Regions from separate parts of the Homo sapiens genome. Here all the other regions are linked to region 3. Evidence: fine-mapped expression QTL. A gene starts in region 3. Each other region holds a variant in brackets. All regions are shown on one strand. Distances are from middle to middle.

What was found.
Region 1: its variant is fine-mapped to the expression of NNT in whole blood (INTERVAL, PIP 0.92).
Region 2: its variant is fine-mapped to the expression of NNT in whole blood (INTERVAL, PIP 0.95).

What each region holds. Positions count from the first base shown.
Region 1 is chr5:43,573,577-43,581,327 of GRCh38, forward strand. It overlaps NNT-AS1 (NNT antisense RNA 1), which reads right to left. Exons shown (of 3, transcript NR_073113.1): 3 at 1-2,359. Among named protein-coding and RNA genes, the nearest start is that of PAIP1, 20 kb to the left of the region's middle. RefSeq lists an enhancer at 6,916-7,662. The variant A/G (reference allele first, on the strand shown) is at 3,641.
Region 2 is chr5:43,749,730-43,757,480 of GRCh38, forward strand. No RefSeq gene overlaps it. Among named protein-coding and RNA genes, the nearest start is that of NNT-AS1, 150 kb to the left of the region's middle. The variant T/C (reference allele first, on the strand shown) is at 3,649.
Region 3 is chr5:43,600,441-43,605,440 of GRCh38, forward strand. It overlaps NNT (nicotinamide nucleotide transhydrogenase), which reads left to right and starts at 2,740. Exons shown (of 22, transcript NM_182977.3): 1 at 2,740-2,854. NNT-AS1 (NNT antisense RNA 1) reads right to left here and starts at 2,790. Exons shown (of 3, transcript NR_073113.1): 1 at 2,338-2,790. RefSeq lists an enhancer at 764-933, a cis regulatory region at 849 and silencers at 2,088-2,307, 2,571-2,660, 2,781-3,000.

The DNA of each region.
Region 1 (7,751 bases), 25 kb before region 3:
GCCCAAAAGTTAGCTTGAGGTCGAAAACATTTAAGTTAGAATTTTACATTTGATTTTGGGAAGTTTGTCAAATATCAAAGGTTTAAAACACTTGATCAAAATAAGATTACAGGTCACTGTAAGATAATAGTTATTCATTTAGCCAAACTGATAATTCAAAAATTTCAAAAAGCAAAAATTTTACTCTTTGACAGAGGGGAGATTCAGTTTTCCAAACAATCAAAAGACATAATAAAAACAGCATTAGGGAAATTCTCTCCTCTTATTACTAATATTTTTTGCAGTTTACTCAAAAGGTAAACAAAAATCTTTTACTATTTCTTATTAATGTATACAAAAATCTTGTTCAAAAGAGAAATCCAAATTCTAACTTTGTGCCAGTGTATTATAAATGCTAAAGCTAATTTTAATAAAGCCTTATAAACAGATCAATCCAATTGCAATTGTTTTCTTTTCCTTTTTTTGTTTTTTTTTGAGACAGGGTCTCACTTTGTCACCCAGGCTGGAGTGTAGTGGTGCAATCTTGGCTTACTGCAACCTTTGACTCCCGGGCTCAAGCAATTTTCCCATCTCAGTCCCCCAAGTAGCTGGGACTACAAGTGTGTACCATCATGCCCAGCTAATTCCTTTTGTACTTTGGTAGTGAGAGAGTTTCACTATGTTGCCCAGGATGGTCTCAAACTCCTGAGCTCAAGTGATCTGCCCATCTCAGCCTCCCAAAGTGCTGGGATTACAAGTGTGAGCTACTGCATCCAGCCTGCAATTGGTTTTGACTGCACAAGAAAAAACATAAAAAGGTTCCATGAACCTTTTATAACCTCTTATAATTGTTACGGTTTTATTTCTTTCCTCAATTTTCTATGTCCATTCAGTTTTAGGTCCTTAAAAAAATAGCAGAGATAGTGTAAACCTGTCTAACAAATAGACCCAGAAAAATATCTAAATTAAATTCAGAAAATGTTTCTATTTTATTTTACCCCAAATTTTAAACTATCTTCATTTACCACAGATTACTAATGCCCTGTGAACTTGAAAAGCGTTTGGGCTTATTTACTTAATTTATGAGTACTAATTTATTTATGTCAAGTTGGTACCATACAGGCAATCTATAAACATAGACACGTATCCATAAAATATAAACACAAATAAATACTTTATATCATTTTTTCTTTTTTTGAGACAGAGTTTCACTCTTATTGCCCAGGCTGGAGTGCAATGGTGCAATCTCGCCTCACTGCAACTTCCGTCGCCCGGGTTCAAGCCATTCTCTTGCCTCAGCCTCCCGAGTAGCTGGGATTACAGGTGTGTGCCACCATGCCTGACTAATTTTTGTATTTTTAGTAGAGATGGAGTTTCATCATGTTGGCCAGGCTGGTCTTGAACTCCTGACCTCAGGTGATCCATCCCCGCCTTGGTCTCCAAAAGTGATAGGATTACAGGCATGAGCCACTGCACCTGGCCTACATCTTTAAAATTTTAGCCACGAGACCAGTAAAACTCCTTAGTTTAAAAGGACAGTTGAATTCAAATGCAGCTTTGTAAATGGAAAGGTTACAGTTTGTCTGTCCTTCATGGCTGAAGATCTTACCAAGTTTTAAGAAAAACAGGATAGCAAATTTACATCTCAAAACAGAGAAAATTAAGCATTTTCAAGAAGAAGTTAGGGTATGTTAGAGAAAGATTAAAAATGGACAACAAGTGATATAGTTTGAGTATTTGTCCTCTTCAAATCTCATGTTGAAATGTTATCCCCAGTGTTGGAGGTTGGGTCAAGTAGGAGGTTTTTGGGTCATGGTGGCAGGTCCCTCATGAATGGCTGGGTTCTGTCCTTGTGGTAATGAGTGAGTTCTTATTCCATTAGCTCATGTGAGAGCTGGTTTTAAAAAGAGTCTAGTGTCTTTCTCACCTTTCTCTTGCTCCCTTTTTGGCCATGTGATATGCCTGCTCCTCCTCTTCGCCTTCCACCATGATTGTAAGCTTCTTTTTCTTTTCTTTCTTTCTTTCTTTTTTTTTTGAGATAGAGTATCACTCTGTTGCCCAGGCTGGAGTACAGTGGTGTGATCTCAGCTCACAGCAACCTCTGCCTCCCAAGTTCCAAGTGATCCTCTTGCCTCAGCCTCCTGAGTAGCAGGGATTCCAGACACATGCCACCATGCCCAGCTAATTTTTGTATTTTTAGTAGAGATGGGGTTTCACCATGTTGGCCAGCCTGGTCTCGAACTCCTGACCTCAAATGATCCATCTGTCTCCGCCTCCCGAAGTGCTGGCATTACAGGCATGAGCCACCGCACGCGGCCAATTGTAAACTTCTTGAGGTTGTCACCAGAAGCAGATGCTGGCATCATGCTTCTTGTACAGCCTGCAGAATAGTGAGCCAAATAAACTTTTCTTTATAAATCACCAAGCCTCAGGTATTCCTTTATAGCAACACAAAACAGACAAACACACCAATGTGACACAAAATTATAGAAATTCACATAGGATGTTACAATGAAAGATACAAATGAGCAGAGAGGAAATTCAGAAGCCTTTTAAAAATAACTAGCTAAGCCCGGGCAACATGGTATATAACTTTGTCTCTACAAAAGCAACAAAATTAGCCAGGCATGGTGGCGTGTGCCTGTAATAGCAGCTACTTGAGAGGCTGAGGTAGGAGGATGAGGACATTGCTTGAGCCCAGGAAGTTGAGGCTGCAGTGAGCTGTGATTGTGTGACTGCATTCCAGCCTGGACAACAGATTAAGACCCAGTCTGATATGGTTTGGATATTTGTCCCCACCCAAATCTCATGTTGAAATGTAATAACTGGTGGGAGGTATTTGGATCATGGGGGCAGGTCCCTCATGAATGGCTAGGGCTGTCCCCTTGGTGCCAAGTGAGTTTTTGCAAGATCTGGTCATTTTAAAGTATGTGGCACCTCCCCCCATACTCTCTTTCTCTTATTCCTGCTTTTGCTGTGAGATGTGCCTCCTCCCCCTTTTCCTTTCACCATGATTGTAAGCTTCCTAAGGACTCTCCAGAAGCAAATGCTGGCACTATGCCTCTTGTACAGCCTGCAGCACTGTGAACCAACTAAACCTCTTATAAATTACCCAGTCTCAGGAATTTCTTTATAGTAACTCAAGAATGGCCTAATACACTGTCTCAAAAAACAAAAACAAAAACAAAACGAAACAAAAAATACAGAAAACCCTACCAAAAACAAAAACAAACACCTAAATGTCAGAAAGTCATATTTTGGAGACCAATCTAGTCATATAGGTGGCTTCTAATTTAGTATCTGTTTTCTACTTAGACCACTGAGTTCTGGGCAGAGCCCATTAAGGAACAGGGCAAACAAAGCATTTGCAGTTTTTAGGGCCTAATATTTGTATATGTAAAAAGTAGGCACAGCTGGAAGACAGAGCATCTAGATTTTTAAAAATCAAGGATTCTACTTTTACACTGAACCCTGGGTCCCCCACAAAAGAGGGAAACACCAAAGGACTGGGCTGCACAGTGTTTCCAGAGTACACCTCACTACAAAGATGTCACCCTGAGGCTGGTGGGGGTGTGTGAGGCATTAGTGAGAGTGACAGATTGTGTGTCAGGTATTAGTGGGTGGGAGACCCATATCAATCAGCCCATTCTGTGATCAGCCC[A/G]TCCACCATGGGATAGTTATTCCTTGGTGGTGAGTATTCCCACAGTCTCCATGTATTCAACTATGTCTTTTTTATAGAATAGAGCAAAGCAACAAGTAGCCTACATACAGTAATAACTATTAATTGCAACCACTGTCAGCTACCTCCAAAACTGCAGCCCTCACCAGTGACCCACCAGCCATTGCATACACAAGGTCAAATTCTCTAATAGGTCAAAGTAATTCCTTGAACCCCCAAAGCCAAAGAGACCAGGTAATGCAATGCAAAGGAGAGTGGAGCTTTAGACCTGATAAGAACTTGCCCATGACTCTTCAGACTCCACAGGAAGACAGAAGATCATTCCCATAAAGTGGGTGAGTGGTAGCTTTTCTATGTTTCTTTTTATTTATTTATTATTTTATTTATTTATTTATTTATTTATTTTTATTGATTATTCTTGGGTGTTTCTCGCAGAGGGGGATTTGGCAGGGTCATAGGACAATAGTGGAGGGAAGGTCAGCAGATAAACAAGTGAACAAAGGTCTCTGGTTTTCCTAGGCAGAGGACCCTGCGGCCTTCCGCAGTGTTTGTGTCCCTGGGTACTTGAGATTAGGGAGTGGTGATGACTCTTAACGAGCATGCTGCCTTCAAGCATCTGTTTAACAAAGCACATCTTGCACCGCCCTTAATCCATTTAACCCTGAGTGGACACAGCACATGATTCAGAGAGCACAGGGTTGGGGGTAAGGTCACAGATCAACAGGATAAGAATTTTTCTTAGTACAGAACAAAATGAAAAGTCTCCCATGTCTACCTCTTTCTACGCAGACACAGCAACCATCCGATTTCTCAATCTTTTCCTCACCTTTCCCCCCTTTCTATTCCACAAAACCGCCATTGTCATCATGGCCCGTTCTCAATGAGCTGTTGGGTACACCTCCCAGACGGGGTGGTGGCCGGGCAGAGGGGCTCCTCACTTCCCAGTAGGGGCGGCTGGGCAGAGGCGCCCCTCACCTCCCGGACGGGGCGGCTGGCCGGGCGGGGGGCTGACCCCCCCACCTCCCTCCCGGACGGGGCAGCTGGCCTGGCGGGGGCTGACCCCCACCTCCCTCCCGGACGGGGTGGCTGCTGGGCGGAGACGCTCCTCACTTCCCAGACGGGGTGACTGCCGGGCGGAGGGGCTCCTCACTTCTCAGACGGGCGGTTGCCAGGCGGAGGGTCTCCTCACTTCTCAGACGGGGCGGCCGGGCAGAGACGCTCCTCACCTCCCAGACAGGGTCGCGGCCGGGTAGAGGCGCTCCTCACATCCCAGGCGGGGCGGCGGGGCAGAGGCTCTCCCCACATCTCAGACAATGGGCGGCCGGGCAGAGACGCTCCTCACTTCCTAGATGGGATGGCGACCGGGAAGAGGCGCTCGTCACTTCCTAGATGGGATGGCGGCCGGGCAGAGATGCTCCTCACTTTCCAGACTGGGCAGCCAGGCAGAGGGGCTCCTCACGTCCCAGGCGATGGGCGGCCAGGCAGAGACGCTCCTCACTTCCCAGACGGGGTGGCGGCCGGGCAGAGGCTGCAATCTCGGCACTTTGGGAGGCCAAGGCAGGCGGCTGGGAGGTGGAGGTTGTAGCGAGCCGAGATCACGCCACTGCACTCCAGCCTGGGCACCATTGAGCACTGAGTGAACCAGACTCCGTCTGCAATCCCGGCACCCCGGGAGGCCGAGGCTGGCGGATCACTCGTGGCTAGGAGCTGGAGACCAGCCCGGCCAACACAGCGAAACCCCGTCTCCACCAAAAAAATACGAAAACCAGTGAGGCGTGGCGTCGCGCGCCTGCAATTGCAGGCACTGGGCAGGCTGAGGCAGGAGAATCAGGCAGGGAGGTTGCAGTGAGCCGAGATGGCAGCAGTACAGTCCAGCTTCGGCTCGGGAGAGGGGGAGGGGGAGGGGGAGGGGGAGGGAGAGGGTTTTCTATGTTTCTTACAGGGTCTTTAGATGTTCCCACAGATCCTTTTATGTGATATTCAAGACAGCAAAGAGAAAGGAGGAACAAAAAGCCAATGAAGTTTTACGCTTTTCTTAACAAAAATCATACCACAAGAAATGAAGCATACAAAAAGACCAAATATACAATTAAAAGAAGTTTCAGTAAACTAGAAAAATCCTCAGAAATAGGATCCCAAAGAAAAAAGGCAGAAAGGCCTTTAAATATATATATTTATATAAATATATTTTTGCATATTTATATACATATATTTATATAAATATATTTTTGCATATTTATATACACATATATTTATATATTGTAATAATACATTTATATATTATAATATATAATATAAAAATATTTTATCTATTATATATTTTATAATATTTATATATTATATGTTATATATAATATATAACATAATATTATACATTTATATAATATATAAATAAAATATAATATATAAATATATAACAATATATTTATAATATAATATAATATAAATTAAATATAAATTAAATATATTTCTATAAATATATAGGTATATATTTATATAAATATATAACTATATTAAATATATACCTATATATTTAATATAGTTATAATATAATATAATATAAATATATGTATATTATATATTTATGTATATAACGATATATTCAACATATATGTTGAATATTAGCTTCTAATTAAGCTGACTTCTGATCATAGAGCTTTTTAAAAATATATTTTCAGATCTTTTATTATTGGATTTTGGCTAGGACAAATAGCTAATATTCCTGACTTTTAAACTTTTTTATGAAAGGTAACTTTGCAAGTGACTCAACAATTTAACTAAGGACACATGAGGTGTCTCCAAAGAGGTAAAAAGCAGTCCTCACAAGATGCAGATGCACTGAAAGACAGTTCAAAGAAAATAAAGTTTCAGTAGCCGCAAACGGGATTCAACCCACATCTGTCCAGCCATATTCTCTAGTGTCTCAACTTCTCAGCTGACTGTCTACACACAAAGGCCCAAAAGCCTCATACGCCCCCACAGATGGAAGGAGGCAGAAAATCAAAAGCTGTCCATGAAACAGAAAATGATCAACAACAAATGGGTACCCCAAAAAGCCAAAAGTCACACAAATATCAGACCAAAAGGTACTGGTTCCCTGACTGGTAATCAAACCCAGACCACAGTAGTGAAAGCACAGAATTTTAATTACTGGACTGAAAGGTGGAGCAGCTTTATTGTGAATCCTACAGACAGTTTGAGCACATATGTTATTGTGGGGAAAAGAAAGAGAGATCAGATTGTTACTGTGTCTGTGTAGAAAGAAGTAGACATAGGAGACTCCATTTTGTTCTGTACTAAGACAAATTCTTTTGCCTTGAGATGCTGTTAATCTATAACCTTACCCCCAACCCCGTGCTCTCTGAAACATGTGATGTGTCAACTTACGGTTAAATGGATTAAGGGCGGTGCAAGATGTGCTTTGTTAAACAGATGCTTGAAGGCAGCATGCTCATTAAGAGTCTTCACCACTCCCTAATCTCAAGTACCCAGGGACCTCTGCCTAGGAAAGCCAGGTATTGTCCAAGGTTTCTCCCCATGTGATAGTCTGAAATATGGCCTCCTGGGAAGGGAAAGACCTGACCATCCCCCAGCCCAACACCCGTAAAGGGTCTGTGCTGAGGAGGATTAGTATAAGAGGAAGGCATGCCTCTTTGCAGTTGAGACAAGAGGAAGCCATCTGTCTCCTGCCCGTCCCTGGGCAATGGAATGTCTCGGTATAAAACCCGATTGTATGTTCCATCTACTGAGATGGGGGAAAACTGCCTTAGGGCTGGAGGTGGGACATGCGGGCAACAATACTGCTTTGTAAGGCATTGAGATGTTTATGTGTATGCATATCTAAAGCACAGCACTTAATTCGTTACCTTGTCTATGATGCAGAGACCTTTGTTCACGTGTTTATCTGCTGACCTTCTCTCCACTATTATCCTATGACCCTGCCACATCCCCCTCTCTGAGAAACACCCAAAAATGATGAATAAATACTAAGAGAACTCAGAGGCTGGCGGGATCCTCCATATGCTGAACGCTGGTTTCCTGGGTCCCCTTATTTTCTTTCTCTATACTTCGTCTCTGTGTCTTTTTCTTTTCC
Region 2 (7,751 bases), 150 kb after region 3:
CAGCCTTTAATGATGATGGTGTAGTTCTATTATTCCTCATCTGATGGCTTTAGCAGCCTTTAATGACGATCGTGTAGTTCTATTATTCCTACATTAGAGTAGAAATTCTTTTCCTTATTAACAGTTTGGTTACTCTCAAGTAGAATTTGTGGAAAAAAACAAGATAAATAATTATTTCCCTTTACTGTTAGTTTATTATTTCAGAATAATGAATTGGAGACCTAGAAATTAAATGATAACCAAGTAGGTAATTGTCATTTTTTTCTGTACTTGTAAATTTATGGATCTTTATATATTTGATATGCGTGTGTGTTTTATGCTCAAAATTTCTTTGCTCTGTGAGTCCTCTTCAGCCAGTGAGTCAATTTGAGTTGGTTTCTATGTTATTCTAGCATGACCCTGGTAGTTTCTGACAGCTTTCTTGATTTCTGGCATGATAGGTTCTCAGACTTATCTTGTACATTACTTGCCCAACTTAAAAGTGGTGTTTAGAGATCTGTGTGTTTGGTGTGCTTATTGCCACTGAGTTGTTATTATTCCCAAGCTTTTACAGTGGTCAGAGCTAATTAGTAAACATTTGTTTTTTAGAAAGAGAAAAGTAATTATTTTATTGTGATATTTTATATTCAAATGTAAGATTATAGGACTTTTATTTAATCATTTTGATTTTACAAGGGCATCTTTTTTCTTTTACACTGAATCATGATTCCTAATGATATTAATATATTATTTATTTTATCCGAATATACATAGTATTCAGGTTTTAAAAAATATACTTATATAGTAATTTCAAAATAACAATTATGTTGCTACTACTAATGGCATGACATTTAATGCAGTTTAAGATTTTGGGGGGGTTCTTTGTGTCCTTAGGATATATTCCACCACTGATGTACAATACAGATACTACATTTAAGCTATTCCATCAACTTTATGTACAATTAGGTTTATTTATTTATTTAAAACAGCTTGATTTTATCTTGCAGTTTTCACTTGTAGAATATACACCAATAAGGATATACAAATGATTGTCTTTTAAAGTCACTTGAAAAAAATAATTCTCTGTACAGATAATCTACCAACTTGTTGGTTAAATTTATTTGCTTTAGAGTTGCAAGGTACTTATTTTAATTTTTAATTTTTTTAAAAAAATTATTTGTAAAATCTGATAAGTAAATATTATAAATATGTTGTATAACATGTTTATATATATATGTATATGCAATGTGGAATGACTAAGCTATTTTACATAAGCATTACCTCACATACTTATTTCTTTGTGGTGAGAACGCTTAAATCTACTCACTTAGCAATTTTCAAATATATAGTATACTGTTATTAACTGTAGTCACCATGATATACAGTAGATCTCTTGAACTTATTTCTCCTGTCTAAACAAAATTTTGTTTCCTTTGACCGACATCTCCCCAATCTCTCCACCCCTCAGCCTCACTCTCTGTTTTTTTTTGTTGTTGTTTGTTTCAACTTATTTTAAGTTCAGGGGTACATGTGCGTTATGTGCAGGTTTGTTACATAGGGAAACATGTGCCATGGTGGATTGTTACAAAGATCATCCCATCACCAAGGTATTAAGCCCAGCATCCATTAGCTATTCTTCCTGATGCTCTCCCTTCCTGACACACTACCCCTGACAGGCCCCAGTGTGTGTTATTTCTTCCACCTAATGTGTCCATGTGTTCTCATCATTCAGCTCCCACTTATAAGTGAGAACATGAAGTGTTTGGTTTTCTGTTCCTGCTGAGGATAATAGCTTCCAGCTTGATCCATGTCCCTACAAAGGACATGATCTCATTCCTTTTTATGGCTACATAGTATTCCACAGTGTATATGTACCACATTTTCTTTATCCAGTCCACTATTGATGGACACCAAGGTTGATTCTACATCTTTGCTATTGTGAAGAGTGCTGCAATGAACATATGTGTGCATGTATCTTTATAATAGAATGATTTATATTCCTTTGGGTATATACCCAGTAATGGGAGTGCTGGGTTGTATAGTATTTCTGCCTTTAGGTCTTTGAGGAGTCACCACACTGTCTTCCACATGGTTGAATTAATGTACACTCCTACCAACAGTGTAAAAGTGTTCCTTTTTCTCCACAACCTTGATAGCATCTGTTGTTTTTTGACTGTTTTTCCTTTTCTTAACAATTTGGTATTATGTTTTTTGACTTTTTTTCTTTTTTGAGACAGAGTCTCGCTCTGTTGCCCAGGCTGGAGTGCAGTGGAGTGATCTTGGCTCACTGCAAGCTCCACCTCCCGGGTTCATGCCATTCTCCTGCCTCAGCCTCCTGAGTTTTTTGACTTTTTAATAATCACCATTCTGACCGGCATGAGATGGTATCTCATTGCAGTCTTGATTTGCATTTCTCTAATGATCAATGATGTTAAGCTTTTCTTTTCATATGTTTGTTGGCCACATGTATGTATTCTTTTGAAAAGTGTCTGTTCATGTCCTTTGCCCACTTTTTAATGGGGTTGTTTGTTTTGCTTATAGATTTGTTTAAGTTCCTTGTAGACTCTAGATATTAGGCCTTTGTCAGATGGATAGATCTACAAAAATTTTCTCCTATTCTGTAGGTTGTCTGTTTGCACTGACTGTATTAGTCTGTTCTCACGCTGCTAATAAAGACATCCAAGACTGGGTCTATAAGGAAAAAGAAGTTTAATGGACTCACAGTTCCACACGGCTGATGAGACCTCACAATCATGGTGGAAGGTGAAGGAAGAGCAAAGCAACATCTTACATGGTGGCAGGCAAGAGAGAATATGCAGGGCAACTGCCCTTTATAAAACCATCAGATCTTGTGAGACTTATTTCCTATCATGAGAACAGCATGGGAAAAACCCATTCCCATGATTCAATTACTTCCCATTGGGCCCCTCCCACAACATGTGGAGATTATGGGAACTACAATTCAAAATGAGATTTGGGTGAGGACAGAGCCAAACCATATTATTCTGTCCCTGGCCCCTCCCAAATCTCATGTCCTTACATTTTGAAACCAATCATGCCTTCCCAACCATCCCCCAAAGTCTTAACTCATTTCAGCATTAACTCAAAAGTCCATAGTCCAAAGTCTCATCTGAGACGAGGCAAGTCCCTTTTGCCTGTGAGCCTGTAAAATCAAAAACAAGTAAGTTACTTCCTAGATACAATGAGGGTACAGGCATTTGGTAAATACACCCATTCCAAATGGGAGAAAACAGTCAAAACAAAGGGTCTATAGATCCCACGCAATTCCAAAATCCAATAGGACAGTCATTAAACTTTAAAGTTCCAAAATGATTTCCTTTGACTCCATGTCTCACATCCGGGTCATGCTGATGCAAGAGGTGGGCTCCCACATCCTTGGGCAGCTCTGTCCCTGTGGCTTTGCAGGTTAGAGCCCCAGTCCTGGCTGCTTTCATGGCCTGGCATTGAGTGTCTGTGGCTTTTCCAGGTGCATGGTGCAAGCTGTTGGTTGATCTAACATTCTGGGTTCTGGAGGACTGTGGCCCTCTTCTCACAGCTCCACTAGGCGGCGCCCCAGTAGGGACTCTGTGTGGGACCTCCAACCTCACATTTGCCTTCCTCACTGCCCTGGCAGAGGTTCTGCATGGGGGCCCTGCCCCTGCAGCAAAC[T/C]TCTGCCTGAATATCCAGGGGTTTCCACACATCTGAAATTTAGGTGGAGGTTCCCAAGCCTCAATTATTGACTTCTGTGTACCTGAAGGCTCAACACCACGTGGAAGCTGCCAAGGCTTGAGGCTTGCACCCACTGAAGCCACTGCCTGAGCCATACCTTGGCCCCTTTTAGCCATGGCTGGAATGGCAGAGACACAGGGCACCAAGTCCCTAGCTGCACACAGCAGGGGAGTCCTGGGCCCAGCCTGTGAAATCAGTTTTTCCTCTTAGGCCTCCAGGCCTGTGATGGGATGGGCTGCCTGGAAGGTCTCCGACATGCCCTGGAGACATTTTCACCATTGTCTTGGTGATTAACATTTGGCTCCTTGTTACTTATGCAAATTTCTGCAGCACGTTTGAATTTCTCCCCAGAAAATGGGTTTTTGTTTTCTATTGCATCGTCAGGCTGCAAATTTTCCAAACTTTTATATTTTGTTTCCTCTAGAACACTTTGCTGCTTAGAAATTTCTTCTGCCAGATAGCCTAAATCATCAGTCTCAAGTTCAAAGCTCCACAGATCCTAGGGCAGGGGCAAAATTTCACCAGTCTGTTTGCTACTAAAGTGTAACAAGAGTCACCTTTACTCCATTTCCCAACAAGTTCCTCATCTCCATCTGAGACCGCTACCTTAGTCTGGACTTTATTGTTCATATTACTATTAGCATTTTGGTCAAAGCCATTCAACAAGTCTCTAGGAAGTTCCAAACTTTTTCACATCTTCCTGTCTTCTGAGCCATCCAAACTCTAGGAAGTTCCAGACTTTCCCACATTTCTGTGTTTTCTTCTGAGCACTCCACCCACACTGCTCCAACCTCTGTCTGTTATCCAGTTCCAAAGCTGCTTTCATATTTTTAGGTATTCTTACAGCACCACCCCACTCTACTGGTACCAATTTACTGTATTAGTCCATTTTCATGATGCTAATAAAGACATACCTGAGACTGGGTAATTTATAAAGAAAAACAGGTTTAAGGGGCTCATTGTTGAAAATGGGTGGGGAGGCCCTGCAATCATGGCAGAAGGTGAAGGAGGGACAAAGGCACATCTTACATGGTGGCAGACAAGAGAGCATGGGTAGGGGAACTGCCCTTTATAAAACCATCAGATCCTGTGAGATTTATTTACTATCACAAGAACAGCATGGGAAAAACCTGCTCCCATGATTCAATTACCTCCCACCAGGTCCCTCCCATGACATGTGGGGATTATGGGAACTACAATTCAAGATGAGATCTGGCTGTGTCCTACTGATGATAGTTTCTTTTGCTGTGCAGAAGCTCTTTAGTTTAATTAGATCCCATTTGTCAATTTTTGCTTTTGTTGCAATTCCTTTTTGTATTTTCATCATGAAATCTTTACCTGTGCCTATGTCCTGAATGGTATTCTCTATATTTTTTCCAGGGTTTTTATAGTTTTGGGTTTCACATTTAAGTCTTTAATCTATTGCTTTAATCTATTTTGAGTTAATTTTTGTATATGGTGTAAAGAAGGGGTCCAGTTCCAATTTCCTGGATATGGCTAGCCAGCACTCCCAGCACCATTTGTTGAATGGGGAGTCCTTTCCCCATTGCTGATTTTGTCAAGTTTGTTGAAGATCAGATGGTTGTAGGTTTGTGGCCTTATTTCTGAGTTCTCTGTTCTGTTCCATTGGTCTATGTGTCTGTTCTTATAACAGCACCATGCTGTTTGGGTTGCTGTAGTCTTGTAGTATAGGTTGCAATCTGGTAGTGTGATGCCTCCAGGTTTGTTTTTGTTTTTTGTTTTTTGCTTAGGATTATCTTGGCTGCTTGGACCCTTTTTTGGCTCCATATGAATTTTAAAATCTTTTTTTAAATTCTGTGAATAATGTCAGTGGTTGTTTAATGGGAATAGCATTTAATTTATTAACAATTAATAAATTGTTTTTGGGAGTATGGCCATTTTCACAATATTGATTCTCCCTATCCATGAGCTGGAATTTTCTCCATTTGTTTGTGTCCTGTCTAATTTCTTTGAGCAGTGGTCTGTATTTCTCTTTGAAGAGGTCCTTCACTTCCCTTGTTACCTCTATTCCTAGGTATTTTATTCTCTTTATAACAATTGTGAATGGGAGTTCATTCATGATTTGGCTCTCTGCTTACCTGTTGTTGATTTATAGGAATGCTAGCAGTTTTTGCACATCGATTTTATATCCTGAGACTTTGCTGAAGTTGTTTATCAGTTTAAGAAGCATTTGGGCTGAGATGATGGAATTTTCTAGTTATAGGATCATGTCATCTGCAAATAAAGATAATTTGACTTCCTCTCTTTCTATTTGAATACTCTTTATTTCTTTCTCTTTCCTGATTGCCGTGGCCAGAACTTGCAATACTATGTTGAATAGGAGTGGTGAAAGAGGTCATCCTTGTCTTGTGCTGGTTTTCAAGGGGAATGCTTCCAGGTTTTGCCAATTCAGTATGATATTGGCTGTGAGTTTTTCATATATGTCTCTTAGTACTTTGAGGCATGTTCCTTCAATACCTAGTTTATTGAGGGTTTATTTATTTATTTATTTGAGACAGAGTCTCCCTCTGTCACCCAGGCTGGATTGCAGTGGCATGATCTCAGCTAGCTGTAACCTCTGCCTCCTGGGTTGAAGCCATTCTCCTGCCTCAGCCTCCTGAGTAGCTGACACTACAGGTGCCTGCCACCATGCCTGGCTAATTTTTGTATTTTTAGTAGACATGGGGTTTCACCATATTGGCCAGCCTGTTCTCAAACTCCTGACTTTGTGATCTGCCCACCTTGGCCTCCCAAAGTGCTGGGATTACAGGCATGAGCCACCATGCCCAGCTGTTTATTGAGAGTTTTTAACATGAAGGGATGTTGAATTTTATCAAAAGCCTTTTCTGCATCTATGAAGATAATCATGTGGTTTTTGTCGTTAGTTCTGTTTATGTGATGAATCACATTTATTGATTTGCATATGTTGAACCAACCTTGCATCCTGGGAATGAGGTCAACTGGATCATGGTGGATAAGCTTTTTGATGTGTTGCTGGATTCAGTTTGCAAGTATTTTGTTGAGGAGTTTTGCATTGAAGTTCATCAAGATGATTAGCCTGAAGTTTTCTTTTTTTTTTGTTGTGTCTCTGCCAGATTTTGGTATCAGAATATGCTGGCCTCATAGATTGAGTTAGTTGGGAGTCTCTCCCTTTCAATTTTTTGAAATAGTTTCATTAGAAATGGTACTAGTTCTTCTTTGTACCTCTGGTAGAATTCAGCTGTGAATTTGTCTGGTCCTGGGCTTATTTTGGTTGGTAGACTATATATTACTACTTCAGAACTCATAATTGTTGTGTTCAGGGATTCAGTTTCTTCCTGGTTCAGTCTTGGGAGGTGTATGTGTCCAGGAATTTATTAACTTCTAGATTTTCTAGTTTATGTGCATAGAGGTGTTTATAGTGTTCTCTGATGATTGTATTTCTGTGTGGTCAGTGGTGACATGCCCTTTATAATTGCTGATTGTGTTTAATGGATTCTTCTCTCTTTTCTTTTTTAATAGTCTAGCTAGCAGTCTATTTACTTTATTAATTAAAAAAAAACAGCTCCTGGATTCATTGATTTTTTTGAAGGGTTTTTAATGTCTCTGTTTCCTTCAATTCTGCTCTGATCTTGGTTATTTTCTGTCTTCTGCTGACTTTGGGGTTTGTTTGCTCTTGGTTCTCTAGTTCTTTTAGTTGTGATGCTAGCTTGTTAACTTGAGATTTTTCCAGCATTTTAAAAAAATTTTATTGTTATTATACTTTAAGTTTTAGGGTACATATGAGATTTTTCCAGCTTTTTGATGTGGGCATTTAGTGCTATGAATTTCCCTCTTAACACTGTTTTAGCTGTGACGGAGATTCTGGTATGTTCTCTCTTTGTTCTCATTAGTTTCAAATAACTTCTTGATTTCTGCCTTAATTTCATTGTTTACCCAAGAGTCATTCAGGGACAAGTTGTTCAATTTCCTTGTAATTGTGTGGTTTTCAGTGAATTTCTCAATCTTGAGTTCTAGTTTGATTGCATGGTGATCTGAGACACTGTTGTTATGATTTCAGTTCC
Region 3 (5,000 bases):
CACAGAAATTTCAAATGCAAACTGGTTTTACTTATGTAGCTTAAACAAATGCCAATTGTTGAACTTTGTGCTGGCTCTTTAATATCAGTTCTCTTTTTTCTTCCAGTTAATGTTGATTAGCATCAGCTCATTTAGTCAGTTAACATTTATTTCCTAAAATCAAACACTCTTGATTGGTCAGCCTGGGAGAAGAGGGCTAAGATTAAGGTTAGTGATGGTTCCCTTAAAACCTGTCGAGTGTCTGCATTGTTAGACACACTGAAATCTAAGAATCCCATCTCTCTGGGGCTGTTCACTTTACTAATAATTATTTATAAAAGGGAAGCTGAGACAATAAATTGCCAATAACCATGTAACATAATAACCACAATGAAAAGACATTAAAGCTACCTTTTCTGTAGCCTGATTTTACCTAGATGGTGGGTTTTGGTAACAAGCCATCACTAGAGGTCAGTTTTTGATTACATGTCTTCTCAGGTTCAGCCTATGTTTTGATTTTTGGCTACTGGGCACCTCTCTGGTTTTTAGGCTTTAAAGCAGATCCAAATGTTATATTATAGTCTTGTAAATGTTTCATCCTTTTTGCTTCTGATAGATTAGAACTCTAATTATTAAAAACTATTTTTAAGCATTTGTGACTACAAAAACTCCTAAACTTCAAATGGTTTAAATTTTGATGTTTATTTTAATTTTAAAATATTTTAAAAATTATTCAATAATAGAACAATCTGTAATGAAAACTTACACATATGTGAGAGGTACTATTTTAAGATGAGAGTTTGCAGGTCAAATTAGTCAGGGAGGAAAGAGTAGAAGTCAGAGTGGGAAAGGCCCTTAAAACTTAATAGGGAATATCAAATCTCTACAAAAATTTTATTCAAGACAGTGTCTAAGACTTAGAAGCAACTAACTTAAAAGCAAACTTTTGGAACTTAATCCTATTTTCATTGGGGACTCCGTTTATGAATAATATGCTGTAATTATACGTAGAAGCTTAAGGACTGAAACAGAGCATTCCAAATGACAAATGTTTTCTCCTGAAGAAATGGCACCCAAATTATGTTGTACAAGTAAGCGGAATAAAATAATCATATGCTTGTTATTAAAATTATCATATGCCTAACATTCATGATTTTCAAAAGTGAAAAACAGTATGTTATCTTTGAGTTTGTTTTCATGTGATATAAATTTATAAGCAAGTCAAAATTAAATAATGTACTGAGCATTAATTTAAGCCAGGATTTTTCAGCCTCAGCACTATTGACATTTGGGGCTGGATAATGCTTCGTCGTGAGGGGCTGTGTAGTGTGAGGTGTTCAGTAATATCCCTGGCCCCAACCCATTAGATAGGTCCCCTCTCCAATTGTGACAACCAAAATGTCTCTAGACATTGCCAAATATCCCTCGGAACTAAATTGTCCCCAGTTGGGAACCACGAATTATTAATCCCTAAAAGACAAAGCAGCAACTCCTGACCCCTACAAAAAGTTTTAAATCAATAACTTAGTTTAAAATCCTTACTAAGTGGGATCATTACTAATCTCACTTCATTGTACCTTCAGTATCTGGAAACCGTCCCTATGGTCACACTTACCACGGCTCATTATTATTTTAAAACATGGGGCTGTGTCATTTCCTGTCTGTGAGTTTGGACTGCAGTGGGAATCCATTAGTTGAATGACCTTCTGTGTAGGTTAATCACAAGACAAGTTCTCAAACTAAGGGTTTCCCTGCGGCTCATTTCTTTTTAAAGTTATGGAATACCTGTTCTGCTTATACCTTTTAGATTCATAATTATTTTTCTTGTATCAAAATTTCAATTAATAGAAATAAATGACGTTACTGACACTTCATGATGATTAAGTTTTGGGCAAGTGAACCATTTTACACTCTATTTTTTATTCCTCCCACTTTTAGTCAGAATACACCTGCAGAATAAGTAACAGAACTGTGTGAAAAGAACGACTAGGTCATTACGGTTAATAGTTTTAGAAAAACAGCCGAGGCCTGGTCTGGAAAGCTCACAACCTCCACCCAGATGCTTTCCAGCCTCGGGGATATTCGTACTAGCAGTGACACTAGCCAGCTTCCTCTAGGCTGGCTCTGATGTTGGAAGACAAGCACGCAGATGTGTGTTACTTTTCAAGCCTGGACATCGTTTCTGAGGAATTTAACTCCACCTCTCCTGCCAGAATGGAAAATCAACGCCCCCCATTCCCGCCCTTCACCAACCCCTCTCCGCCTGCCCCTTTCCCTTGGGTCCTCTCTGTTACAGAAGTTCTGATTTTTCCTAGCGAGCTGGAGGAAAGGCAGGTACCCGGAGTGGAGTTATATTACCTGTTTCTTTGTTCTGATGGGACCCCAGAGAGGACATCACGCTTTGTAACTGGTTCTTCAAGGGGAGAAGCAAATGTGTCCCTGAAAACTTCAGCTGCCGCGTTTGGCACCAGGTTTGATTGACAAGGACTGGCGGAGGGAAAGCGCGGAGGCTGGGCTGGGGGCCGCAGGCCGAGGCAGAGACAAAGAGGTTTCGCCTGTCCCCGAGAGTGGAAGGGCCCCTGGGGGTAACTAGCCTTTGAGCTCAAAGGGGCATTTCGTGAGGTCGCCTTTTGGTTCGGAGAGCGCGCGGCGATCGGGTGGAGGGGGCCTGGCGGGAAGAAAGCTGGGGCGGGGAAGGGGCGCGGGCCGAGGTGGGAGCGGAGCTGCAGTCACGTGGCCGCCCGCCGCCGCGGAGTTGGGGCTGTTCTTCCGGGTTGGAGGCGCAGCGCCGCGGGGCCCAAGCCCGGGTCTGCCAGCGCGACGTCCTCTCGCGGCCCTCAGGGCACAGCCCAAGGCTGTCAGCCTCCCGGCCCAGGTGAGCGCGACGGCACTGGCGGGTGCGGGCAGCCGGGGCGCGCGCCTAGGGCGCAGCTGGGAAAGGGGCTCGGGCCTTTCCTGAAGACCACGGCCCTCGCCGGGAGAGAGACCTGTCAAAGAGCAAAGCGGGGCGGGGTCGGCGGTGTCCCGGGCGCAGGGTGCATTGGGGTGTCCGCAGGCCGCAGGCTTAGGTGGGGAAGAAGCACCGTGCCTCTTGGTGTCCCTTTCTCGTCTCCTGCTGGGGCGATGTCGAAGGGAGTGGGCTGGTGGATTTGGGAACTGGGTCCCCGAAGAGGGCAGGGAATGAGGCGGCAGCTGTGCAGGTGCAGATATTTGCAGCTTTGGGGGACAGCGAGAGTCGTACGGGGTCATTTCGGCCCTCAAGATCGGGGGTGGTGGAGAGGGAGGTCATAGAGGACTTTCGATGGGCGGTTCATCCAGAGAGGTGGCAGCTGGATGCCCTTGAGGTATGCTTGACCCTTGAGGGAGTTCGGAGAGGGTGTCCGGCTGGGGACATAGGAGATTGCGAGCACAAATTGTGAGTGTGAGTTGGGGCGGTCTGGCGGTGGTGGGTACAAGTTTCTGGGGCCTAGGCTGGTGAGGAGGAAGAGACAGCGGAGAGGGCGACCTGGGCAGAGCTAGTTCAAACTCAACAGCCGGAATGACTATTTGCAGCCGTGGCCAATCGGCTTCCTAGGGAGGTTATAAATAGCGGTCTCGTGCAGATGCCAGCGGGTGGCAGTTAGTTGCCGAGCAAGGGACGGCACCGGTGGCAGTAGCCGTGACACCAGTGGCTTTGGGTGAGGTCACGGCGCCTGCCAGCCGAAGCTGGCTCAGTAGGGTATTGTGTCCTTGCTGGTATGTCTCGCTTTTAAAAGCGTGACTTGTTTATGGTTGCCGGTGTCCTTTATTCACCCTGTGGCGCCGGCCAGTCCTTAGGTGGTCTGTTTGTCAGGAGTCTTGTAGGACAGACTTATTCGGAGAAGCGCGTGGGGCTTAGGTGCCTACCTACTCTTCTTATTTAAAGTGTGCCCCTTTTCTTCATTGCACCCCTTTTATTTGTAAACCTTGACTTTTTATTAACAGACAGTTTAGGATTGCCTTCTTTCCAGCAGGTGCGCTTAGGCTGCTTACCTTGGTGATAGAATCAGTTTTCCACAAGGCTACACAAACATTTCCTTTTCAAAGGAAATTTTCCGAAAATCCTTGGAAAATGTGCTCAATAGGTACTTAGGCTTAAGGTCACCTAGCCCTATTCATTCAGTCAAAAATACTGACTTCCTCTGTGTTGTGCAAAGCACTGGGGGAGAGTAATACCAAAGTGAATATAACAGCTGATAAGGATATTCTCAGTCCTGGCAACAACCCTGAGAGGTAGGTGCTGTTATTTTATTTTTTCAAGTCTCGCTCTGTTGTCCAAGCTGGAGTACAGTGGCACAATCACGGCTTACTGCAGCCTGGAACTCCTGGGCTCAAGTGATTCTCCCACCTCAGACTCCCAAGTAGCTGGGACTTCAGGCTTGCACCACCATGCCCTGCTAATTAATTTTTTTTTTTTAGCAATGGGGGTCTCACTGTGTTGGCCAGGCTAGTCTTGAATTCTTGGCCTCAAGCAGTCCTCCCCACTAGCCTCCCAAAGAGATGGCATTATAGGCGTGAGCCACCACCCTGGGTGGGTGCTATTATTCCCCATTTTAAAGATGAGGAAATTAAGTACAGGGAAGTTAAGTGACTTCCCAAGGTCACACAGCCAATAAGTTGCAGAGTGGGGCTTCCAATCCGCAGATCCAGAGCTGACTCTCTTAAATATCTGTGGTATCCTCCCTCTTTAGGTTGGGTGCTTTCCCTCAAGGATTTTAATATCTAATAGGGGAAATAACCCATATAAGTTACATTAAACATACATATGAAAGCAATGCTTAAAAAGTTGTGCTTTTGGGCCGGGCGCGGTGGCTCACGCCTGTAATCCCAGCACTTTGGGAGGCCGAGGCGGGTGGATCATGAGGTCAGGAGATCGAGACCATCCTGGCTAACAAGGTGAAACCCCGTCTCTACTAAAAATACAAAAAATTAGCCGGGCGCGGTGGCGGGCGCCTGTAGTCCCAGCTACTCGGGAGGCTGAGGCAGGAGAATGGCGTGAACCC